Linked DNA regions of Homo sapiens. The protein of the gene in region 3 purifies or fractionates together with the protein of the main gene of each other region. This does not show direct contact. Each region holds a gene or a part of one and is shown on either strand. Other genes may lie near its edges. The genes, in order: KANSL3, KAT14 and ZNF608.

What was found.
Region 1: the proteins of ZNF608 (region 3) and KANSL3 purify together in Homo sapiens (affinity purification with mass spectrometry, with the first as the bait; one large-scale study listed by BioGRID). This does not show direct contact.
Region 2: the proteins of ZNF608 (region 3) and KAT14 purify together in Homo sapiens (affinity purification with mass spectrometry, with the first as the bait; one large-scale study listed by BioGRID). This does not show direct contact.

What each region holds. Positions count from the first base shown.
Region 1 is NC_000002.12:96,631,756-96,635,406, reverse strand, and holds part of KANSL3 (KAT8 regulatory NSL complex subunit 3), read left to right. Parts: intron 1-3,651. UniProt on the Homo sapiens protein: Non-catalytic component of the NSL histone acetyltransferase complex, a multiprotein complex that mediates histone H4 acetylation at 'Lys-5'- and 'Lys-8' (H4K5ac and H4K8ac) at transcription start sites and promotes transcription initiation.
Region 2 is NC_000020.11:18,161,749-18,165,399, forward strand, and holds part of KAT14 (cysteine-rich protein 2-binding protein), read left to right. Parts: intron 1-71; coding exon of another isoform or gene 72-74; coding exon 75-491; intron 492-628; coding exon 629-1,197; intron 1,198-3,651. UniProt on the Homo sapiens protein: Component of the ATAC complex, a complex with histone acetyltransferase activity on histones H3 and H4. May function as a scaffold for the ATAC complex to promote ATAC complex stability. Has also weak histone acetyltransferase activity toward histone H4.
Region 3 is NC_000005.10:124,645,524-124,649,174, reverse strand, and holds part of ZNF608 (zinc finger protein 608), read left to right. Parts: intron 1-41; coding exon 42-2,496; intron 2,497-3,651. UniProt on the Homo sapiens protein: Transcription factor, which represses ZNF609 transcription.

The DNA.
Region 1 (3,651 bases), on a different chromosome or scaffold from region 3:
AAATTGTTTCCTTTTATAATCTCTGTCTCCAAATATAGACCCTGAAAGTGAGAATTTGGCATGCTGTAAGAACTCTTTTAGGCCAGTGTGGCCAGAATATAATAGCAGTAGGGGTATAAGTGGGAGGTAGGGAGAAGTTGGCAAGGGTTACCTCGTGAAGGAATTTGATTCTAAGAGTGGTAAGAAGTCACTGAAGGATCTTAAACTAGAGATTCAATTTATACTTTAAAAAGATCATTTTGGATTTTTTGTTGAGTATATTATAGTGCAGGAGTAGAACTTACAAGACCAGCTGCAGGCTGCCACTGCAATGGACTGAGATGGGCCAGAAATCGTGATATCTTGTATAGGGCAGGAACAGTACAAATGGAGAAATATAGATGACTTTGAGATGTATTTCATAGGTAGAGTGAATAGGTTAATAGGATCTGCTATGGTGAATTGGAAGGAAGAGCAAGAACCAGGGTTAAAGGGAAAGGTAAAATTAGGATGACAGATTTCTGGCTTGAGCAGTTGGGTGGTGCCATGAGTTAGGGAAGACTGGAGGAGGATAGGTTTGTGATGGTGAAATCAAGAGTTCTCTTTTAGCTACACATATCCAAGTACTAGCTCAATGTCTGGCCTGGAGAAGATAATCAGCTCTTTTGCCCACCACCAAATCTAGCTGCACATGATTTCATTTCATTTCATAATGATGTAATTATTTCAGTCATTGGAAATGGATGCAGTAAGGTCACTGAAGTCAAAAAGTTAACATAAAGTTTGGCAGGTAGCCACTAGACCAGTTTGTTTGGCATAGTATTTGGGGTGACAAAGTTGGTGCAATGTATCATAAAGTGGGGAAGGACCCTTGGGGCACTAGGATTTGTTTCTTACTTTCTTTTTTTTTTTTTTTGAGACGGAGTCTCTGTTGCCCAGGCTGGAGCGCAATGGCGCAATCTTGGCTCACTGCAACCTCTGCCTCCTGGGTTCAAGCAATTCTCCTGCCTCAGCCTCCCAAGTAGCTGGGATTATAGGCACCCGCCACCATGCCTGGCTAATATTTTTAGTAGAGACGGAGTTTCACCATGTTGGTCAGGCTCGTCTTGAACTCATGACTTTAAGCAATCCACCTGCCTCGGCCTCCCAAAGTGCTGGGATTACAGGCGTGAGCCACTATGCCCAGCTAGATCTCATTTTAAAATATGAAAGACCTTTAGATGTTCATTTATATTTGTTTCTGTTCTAGGCTCTGTACAAAATGAGCTAAGTAGCTAAGGTATGTGCATTCCAGGTCATCTGTCTTAGATAATCATACAGAAAGGAAATCATAGACTTTACAGTATATATTAAATAACTACCAGTTGACTTGCTAATGAAAGGGAAAGTTTGTATGAATTTAAAACTCTAGACCAGCACTGTTTAACAGAACTCTCTGTAATAATAGGAATGTTCTATACCTGGGATGTCCAGTGTGGTAACTGCCGCCACGTGTATCTGTTGAATGCTTGAAATGTGGCTAACGTCACTACGGAACTGAATTTTTTATTTTTTTATTTTTTTGAGACGGAGTCTTGCTCTGTCACCCAGGCTGGAGTGCAGTGGTGCAATCTTGGCTCATGGTAACCTCCGCCTCCCGGATTCAAGCAATTCTCCTGCTGCAGTCTCCCAAGTAGCTGGGACTATAGGTGCACGCTGCCACACCCAGCTAATTTTTTGTGTTTAGTAGAGACGAGGTTTCACCATGTTGCCCAGGCTGGTTGCAAACTCCTGAGCTCAGGCAATCCGCATGCCTCTGCCTCCCAGAGTGCTGGGATTACCGGCATGAGCCACCATGTCCGGCCTTTTTTTTTTTTTTTGAGACAGAGTCTCGCTCTGTTGCCCAGGCTGGGGTGCAGTGGTGTGATCTCGGCTCACTGCAACCTCCGTCTCCCGGGTTCACGCCATTCTCCTGCCTCAGCCTCCTGAGTAGCTGGGACTACAGGCACGTGCCACCACACCCTAATTTTTGTTTTTTTTAAGTAGAGATGGGGTTTTACCATGTTGGCCAAGCTGGTCTCGAACTCGTGACCTAAGGTGATCCACCCGCCTTGGCCTCCCAAAATGTTGGGTTTACAGGCGCGAGCCACTACGCCCAGCCTGAATATTTAATTCTATTTAAATTTTTTTTTTTTGGGCCGAGGTCTCTGTCACCCAGACTGAAGTACAGTGGTGCAATTTTGGCTCACTGCAACGTCCGCCTCCCAGGCTCAGTTGATCTCCCACCTCAGCCTCCCATGTAGCTGGGACCACAAGCTAATTTCTGTATTTTCAGTAGAGACGGGGTTTCACCATGTTGCCCACACTGTTGAACTTGTGGGCTCAAGTGTTCTGCCCACCTTGGCCTCCCAAAGTGCTGGGATTACAAGCCTGAGCCCTTGTGAGCCCTTGTGCCCAGTAATTTTTTTTTTTTTTTTTTTTTTGAGATGGAGTCTCGCTCTGTCTCCCAGTCTGGAGTGCAGTGGCGCAATCTCGGCTCACTGCAAGCTCCGCCTCCTGGGTTCACACCGTTCTCCTTCCTCAGTGTCCTGAGTAGCTGGGACTACAGATGCCTGCTACCATGGCTGGCTAAATTTTTGTATTTTTAGTAGAGACGGGGTTTCTCCATGTTAGCCAGGATAGTCTCGATCTGACCTCGTGATCCACCTGCCTCAATTTAAGTAGTCGTGTGTGGCTTATACCTACTGTATTGAACAGTATCTAGGCAATCAACTTGTTAGCCACTTTTCTCCATTTGTACTGTTCTTGTCCCTAAACGAGCTCTCATGATTTCTGGCCCATCTCAGTCAACTGCAGTGGCTGCCTAGCTGGTCTTCTAAATTCCACTCCTGAGCTGTAGCCTACTAAACAAAAATTGAAAGTGATCTTTTAAAAATATTAGCTTGAGCCAAATCAACTTGCTTATGGAATATATTGTCCTTTTTTTTGAGACTGGGTCTTGCCGTGTCACCCAGACTGGAGTGCAGTGGCATGATCAGAGCTGACTGTAGCCTCAACCTCCTGGGCTCAAGCAAGCCATCCTCCCACTTCAGTTTCTGGGACTGCAGGCGCATACCACCATGCCTGGCTAATTTTTGTGTTTGTTTTAGAGACGGGGTTTTGCCATATTGCCAAACTGGTCTTGAACTTCTGGGCTTAAACAATCCTCCTTCAGCCTTCCAAAGTACTGGGATTACAAGTATGAATCACTGTGCCTGGCTATATTTGTCATTTATTTATTTATTTTTTGAGACCAGCTCACTCCTGGGCTTAAGTGATCCTCCTGCTTCAGCCTCCCAAGTGCTGGGATTACAGGTGTGAATCACTGTGTCTGGCTGTATTTGTCATTTATTTATTTATTTTTGAGACCAGGTCTTGCTCTGTCACCCAGGCTGGAGTGCAGTGATGCAATCATGGCTCACTGCAGCCTTGACTTCCCGGGTTCCAGCAGTCCTCCCACCTTAGCCTCCTTAGTAGCTGGGATCACAGGTGTGTGCCACATGCCCAGCTAATTTTTGTATTTTTGGTAGAGACAGGGTTTCCTCATGTTGCCCAGGCTGGTCTTGAACTCCTGAGTTCAAGCAATCCACCTGCCTCGGCTTCCCAAAGTGGTGGTATTACAGGTGTGAGCCAGTGCACCTGGCCCATATTTAT
Region 2 (3,651 bases), on a different chromosome or scaffold from region 3:
GAAATCCAAAACATGCTTGTGCCCAAGCATTTCAGATGAGGGATACTCAGCCTGTATTTATTCTTTCTTAGCAGCCTCAAAACCAACTTTAGATCCCATCATTACTGTTGAGGGACTTAGAAAACGAGCAAGTCGGAATCCTGTGGAATCTGCCATGGAATTAAAAGAGAAAAGGTCTCGAACTCAGGAAGCAAAAGACATTAGAAGAGCCCAGAAGGAGGCCGCTGGCTTTCTTGACAGGAGCACATCTTCTACCCCTGTAAAATTCATAAGCCGAGGCCGCAGGCCAGATGTGATTCTGGAAAAAGGCGAAGTGATTGACTTTTCCTCCTTGAGCTCCTCTGACCGCACCCCGCTGACAAGCCCATCTCCTTCTCCTTCTCTGGATTTCTCTGCCCCTGGTACACCTGCCTCTCATTCTGCCACACCTAGCTTGCTTTCAGAAGCAGATCTGATTCCAGATGTGATGCCCCCACAAGCCTTGTTTCATGGTAAGAGTTTGTTTGCTTTGCTCTTTTATTTTGGGTATGGGCCATGGTATAAATGTACAAGTTTTCACCCCGTGGGCTGTGTGCTCTGCATTTCTTCCTTCCTATGTCTTGATGACACTGTTTTGTACTCTGCACAGATGACGATGAGATGGAAGGCGATGGAGTCATAGACCCAGGGATGGAGTACGTCCCACCCCCTGCTGGGTCAGTAGCTTCTGGGCCAGTGGTTGGGGTCAGAAAGAAGGTCAGAGGCCCTGAACAGATAAAGCAGGAGGTAGAGAGTGAGGAGGAAAAACCCGACAGGATGGATATTGACAGTGAAGACACAGATTCAAACACATCTTTGCAAACAAGGGCTAGAGAAAAGAGGAAGCCTCAGCTGGAGAAGGACACAAAGCCGAAAGAGCCCAGGTATACTCCCGTGAGCATCTACGAGGAAAAGCTGCTGCTCAAGAGGCTGGAAGCTTGTCCCGGTGCTGTTGCCATGACTCCGGAAGCTCGGAGACTGAAACGCAAACTGATTGTCAGACAAGCGAAAAGGGATAGGGGATTACCACTTTTTGACTTGGATCAAGTTGTTAATGCTGCTCTTTTGTTAGTTGACGGGATTTATGGAGCCAAAGAAGGAGGAATTTCCAGACTTCCAGCTGGACAAGCCACGTACAGAACCACCTGTCAGGACTTCAGAATCCTTGACCGATACCAGGTGAATGCAAGCACTTGCTGTAAAGCCCTTGGGGGCAGGAGTGGAGGTGGGGCAGGCAGCACTAGGCATTGGACATGGTTATGCTGTGACCTTTTAAATCCTGAGTAATTTGGGAAGAGAAAAGTAAAGTGCAAGGGAAAAAAATACAAAAATCGCTGGGCTTTATTTTTCAGAATTGTTCATTGTAAGTACACCTGAATACATCTGAGTTTTTCTTTTCCTTTAGGCATTCAAACATAACCTATAAGTTTTCTTCATCTGTCTCTCTTGTCTCTCTCTCTCTGAGGATAGATATGCATGGTTTGTGTCGTAGCTTTGACAAATTTGTTGAGGCCATGACGGTGTCTCTGACACTGTGTTGCAGAGGATCTGAAGGTGTGTAGACATCTGCGAAGGACAACATGAAGAAATAGCAGCCAAGGGATCAGTGTGGTATCAGTGTTGCTCAAAGGATGGTCGGTGGAACCCAAATTTTGTGGATGCTTCTGGGAACAATTAATTCCACTTAGAACTACCTGTATATACTCTCCCACTGGGAGGAACAAGAGGCCTTATTCCCTTTATCTTTGCTAGCACTTGACACTAACCAGCCTTTAAGTTTTGCTAATTGGCTGGCTGTAAAGTGAAATCTTGTTTTTTATTTATATTTCTTTGGTTACAGGTGAGGTTAAATTTCCTGGTTGTTTCTTTGTGAATTGCCTGTTTGGAGTCTGCATGTTTTTCTCTCTTCTCTGGAAGCTAGTGGGATCTGCTCTTCATTGCTGGTGTTCTGGTATTATTCAGTGATGTGCCGTATGTAGGGCTTATGTCTTTCCTTGTGCTGGACATGTGGTGTGTGGGCCCTTTCAATTTGAAACTTTCTTTCCTGAGTATGGAAAAGTCTTGATTTCCTATCTTCTATTTTTTCTGTTCTCTCATTTTAGAACTCCCCATTATTTGGATATTGGACCCTGTAGATTAAAAGTTGGCAAACTTTATCTGTAAAGAAATAAGTATTTCTGCCAGATAGTAATTATTTTAGGCTTTGCCGGCCACAAAATCTCATTCGGAACTCTTCAACTCTGCTGTTGTGATTGGAGAGCCGTAGTGAATGAGTGTGGCTGTGTTCCAGTAAAACTTTATCTACTAAAATGGGCAGTGGACTGGATTTAGCCTGGGGGCTATAGTTTACCAAGATCCCTACTCCAGATAGATCCTCTTTTCTTTTTTTTCCTAATTCCCATCTTTCCTGGGAAGCACAGTATTAACTGGCCTGCCTACCAGGAGCCAAGTCGGGAGGGCCCAGGAGCCCATCGTTTAGGAGGTAAACTGACTCTCCCTGTCTTCAGTACAGTACTCCCACCCTTGGCTTCCTGTGTCCAGAATCTCCCTCTTGAGCCTCTCCAGTCTTCTGCCCGTGGAGGGAAAGATCATTTCCTAGATGTGGGCAGTATAATTACTATAGGGGTATAATTGGAGCCTTTAACCTCTTAAAGAGCCTCACAATCCATAGTCATACCCCCCAGGCTCTAAGCCTGATGCCTTAGGTGACTACACTTCCCTGAGGCTGTGTTTTGTAAATCACCCTGCTTAGCTTCACCACTGGCTTAGGTATTGGCTTTCTTTGGTCTGTTAAGTCATTTGCTGCTTGTTCATATGCTTTTGTTAGTCATCTATTCACTTGTTCTTGTTCTTTTTTTTTTTTTTTTTGAGACATGGTCTCTCTCTGTCACGCAGGTTGGAATGTAGTGGCACAACCACAGCTCATTGCAGCCCCGAACTCTCAGGCTCAAGCAATTCTCCCACCTCAGCTTCCCAAGTAGCTGGTACTATAGGCACACACTACCACACTCAGCTAATTTTTTTTTTAATTTTTATTTTTAGTAGAGACAGGGTCCTACTATCTTGCCCAGACTGATCTCAAACTCCTGGGCTCGAGTGATCGCCTCAGCCTCCCAAAGTGCTGGGATTACAGGCATGAGCCATTGCGCCTGGCCAATATTCACCTGTTCTTTGTTCTTATTCTTGTGGGCCTGTCTGTTTACTGCCTATACTTAATTTTTTAAATTGTAAGATGTGTCATACAGATAGAAGGCAGCATAGAAATATGGTATAATTTAGATATTAGTAAAATAAATGCCCATGTATTCATCTCCTGGATAAAGAGTGTTGTAAACACCTTAGAAGTCTCCTGTGTACTTTCTGTTCCCCTCAGAGGAAGCCACTTTGACTTACAGTGTTAATTATTCTTTTGCTTTTTAAATGTGTATGTCTCTAAATGATATACTTTTCGTTTAAAAAAATACTGAGTAGCAAGCATAAATCTAGCTGTGTAAGTAAATTGCCACTATTAGATGAAGTTTCCTGGAGAAGATAAGCTAAATAGTCATTCTGGGTCATTGTTGTGGACTGAATTGTGTCCCCCTTAAGCATATGTTGAAGTCCCAACCCTGGTACCTATGAATGCAGCCTTAT
Region 3 (3,651 bases):
TTGGGGATGCTCATTTTCACATCTGTTACTTGCTTCCATAGGTTTTGTGAGTCACCGACAAGTGACCTGGAGATGAGAGGGGGCCGGGGCAGAGGGAAGAGAGCGAGGTCTGCTGCTGCTGCCCCGGGCTCCGAGGCCAGCTTCACAGAGTCCAGAGGGCTGCAGAATAAGAACAGAGGGGGGGCCAATGGGAAAGGGAGGCGGGGCAGCCTCAATGCCAGCGGACGAAGGACACCCCCAAATTGTGCTGCTGAGGATATCAAAGCCAGCCCTTCCTCCACCAACAAAAGGAAAAACAAGCCTCCAATGGAGCTGGACCTGAACTCCAGCTCTGAGGACAATAAGCCTGGAAAGCGTGTCCGCACAAATTCCAGAAGCACTCCCACTACCCCTCAAGGGAAACCAGAGACTACTTTTTTGGACCAAGGCTGCTCTTCTCCAGTGTTAATCGACTGTCCCCACCCAAACTGCAACAAAAAGTACAAGCACATTAACGGCCTGAGGTACCACCAGGCTCATGCACACTTAGACCCAGAAAACAAGCTGGAGTTCGAGCCTGACAGTGAGGACAAGATCTCGGACTGTGAGGAAGGATTGAGTAATGTGGCACTTGAATGCAGTGAGCCAAGCACAAGTGTATCTGCTTATGACCAGTTGAAGGCACCGGCATCCCCTGGTGCTGGAAACCCACCTGGGACCCCAAAGGGAAAGAGAGAGCTGATGAGCAATGGCCCAGGTTCCATTATTGGTGCTAAAGCTGGGAAGAATTCTGGCAAAAAGAAGGGCCTTAACAATGAACTGAACAACCTTCCAGTAATCTCCAACATGACGGCTGCGTTAGACAGTTGCTCGGCAGCAGACGGCAGTTTGGCTGCTGAGATGCCTAAACTGGAAGCAGAAGGATTAATTGACAAGAAAAATTTAGGAGATAAAGAAAAGGGCAAAAAAGCTACCAACTGCAAAACGGACAAAAACCTCTCTAAACTGAAAAGTGCCCGGCCCATTGCCCCTGCCCCAGCCCCCACTCCCCCGCAGCTAATCGCTATACCCACTGCAACCTTTACAACGACCACCACTGGGACAATACCCGGACTGCCCTCCCTCACAACAACTGTTGTTCAGGCTACACCAAAGAGTCCTCCGTTAAAACCCATTCAACCAAAGCCCACAATTATGGGAGAGCCCATCACCGTGAACCCAGCTCTGGTGTCACTCAAAGACAAAAAGAAAAAGGAGAAGCGAAAGCTAAAGGACAAAGAAGGGAAAGAGACGGGAAGCCCAAAAATGGATGCCAAGCTGGGGAAACTAGAGGACTCCAAGGGGGCCAGCAAAGATTTACCTGGGCATTTTTTAAAGGATCATCTCAACAAGAATGAAGGGCTGGCAAATGGACTGTCGGAGTCTCAGGAGAGCCGCATGGCCAGTATCAAAGCTGAGGCCGATAAGGTTTACACTTTCACAGACAACGCTCCCAGCCCTTCCATAGGGAGCGCCTCGAGGCTGGAATGCAGCACTTTGGTGAACGGGCAGGCACCAATGGCACCTCTGCATGTGTTGACCCAGAATGGGGCAGAGAGTTCAGCTGCAAAGACAAGCAGCCCGGCCTATTCAGACATATCTGATGCTGCTGACGATGGTGGTTCTGACAGCAGGTCGGAGGGTATGAGATCAAAGGCCAGTTCCCCATCAGATATTATTTCTAGTAAGGACAGTGTTGTAAAAGGGCATTCTTCAACTACAGCACAATCATCTCAACTGAAAGAGTCCCATTCTCCCTATTACCACAGCTATGATCCTTATTATTCTCCAAGTTACATGCACCCTGGGCAGGTCGGTGCCCCTGCAGCTGGAAATAGTGGGAGCACGCAGGGAATGAAGATCAAGAAGGAGTCTGAGGAAGATGCTGAAAAGAAAGACAAGGCAGAGCAGTTAGATTCTAAGAAAGTGGACCACAATTCTGCATCCTTACAGCCTCAGCACCAGTCGGTGATCACACAAAGACATCCTGCCCTGGCTCAGTCACTTTATTATGGCCAGTATGCATATGGGCTCTATATGGACCAGAAGTCTCTGATGGCCACCAGCCCTGCCTATAGACAGCAGTATGAGAAGTACTATGAGGACCAGAGGCTGGCAGAGCAGAAAATGGCCCAGACTGGGAGAGGAGACTGTGAAAGGAAAAGTGAGCTCCCCTTGAAAGAGCTGGGCAAGGAGGAAACTAAACAGAAAAATATGCCATCGGCCACAATCTCAAAAGCTCCCTCTACTCCGGAGCCTAACAAAAACCATTCTAAACTAGGGCCATCAGTGCCTAATAAAACTGAGGAGACAGGTAAATCGCAGCTTCTCTCCAATCACCAGCAGCAGCTTCAGGCCGACAGCTTCAAAGCTAAGCAGATGGAAAACCACCAGCTTATTAAGGAGGCTGTAGAAATGAAGTCTGTCATGGACTCTATGAAGCAGACAGGTGTAGACCCAACCTCGAGATTTAAACAAGTAAGATTGTGGAGCGTGGCCCCAACAGGGAGAGAGCAGTCTGAGACTTGTATTATACATGTCTGGGCTTGATCTGGTTAGACTTCTGACACAGGAAAGAAACCCATATTAGTTTTTTCCTCTGCTCTTGAAAAATATCTTAAGATTCTCAGGAGTTACTATGTAGCTCTAAAATGTACATTATCAGTATTTTCTTGTCATGGTGTATAGTAAAAGGAACTGTGGATGGGTGCTTTGCAGATTTGTGTTTCATGCCACTAACTTGCTCTGTGACTCTGATGAGGTCCATTAATTTCTTTTTTTAAATTTTTTAAATTTTTTGAGACGGAATCTCTCTCTGTCACCCAGGCTGGAGTGCAGTGGTGCAATCTTGGCTCTCTGCAACCTCCGCCTCCGTTCAAGCGATTCTCCTGCGTCAGCCTCCTGAGTAGCTGGGACTACAGGCACGTGCCACCATGCCCGGCTAATTTTTTGTATTTTTAGTAGAGATGGGGTTTCACCGTGTTAGCGAGATGGTCTCGATCTCCTGACCTCATGATCCGCCCACCCTGGCCTCCCAAAGTGCTGGGATTACAGGCGTGAGCCACCGCGCCTGGCCAGGATCCCTTAATTTCTTAGTCCAAGGCGAGGGCTTTCCACAATGGGGCTGCTGAATTCTCTTCTAACTCTGAGATTCTGAGTCTTATCTCTGAAATATTTATTTTCCATTTTCAAATTTCTACTAGCATCTTCTTTGAAGATAATAAAAACTGGGTCCCTGAATTCACATTTCCCATTAATCTTTTTAATAGAATTTGGGGCCCAAATTTCTTTCACATGGGGTCAGAGATGCCTAGATTTCAGTCTTACTCCCTATATTAAGTACCCCAAAACTCAGAGCTCAGTGCTGAATGTTTGTGAGGAGGGTGAGGAGGTTTGGGTGGCAGGCCTCAACAGCTGTCCCAGAGCCCCATGGGTCAGTCAGCTTGAGAACACCTGAAAATTGGTCACCACGAAACCACAAATGTACTAGCACCTTCTGTCATGGTTCAGACATCCTGACCCACTGCAACCCCGTGAGCATTAATCCTGGTTATTTCCCAGCACTGCACATCCCCACTCCCACCCTCACCCCCATGCTTAGATAATCCCTGGTGCATTAGAGCAAGAACCACC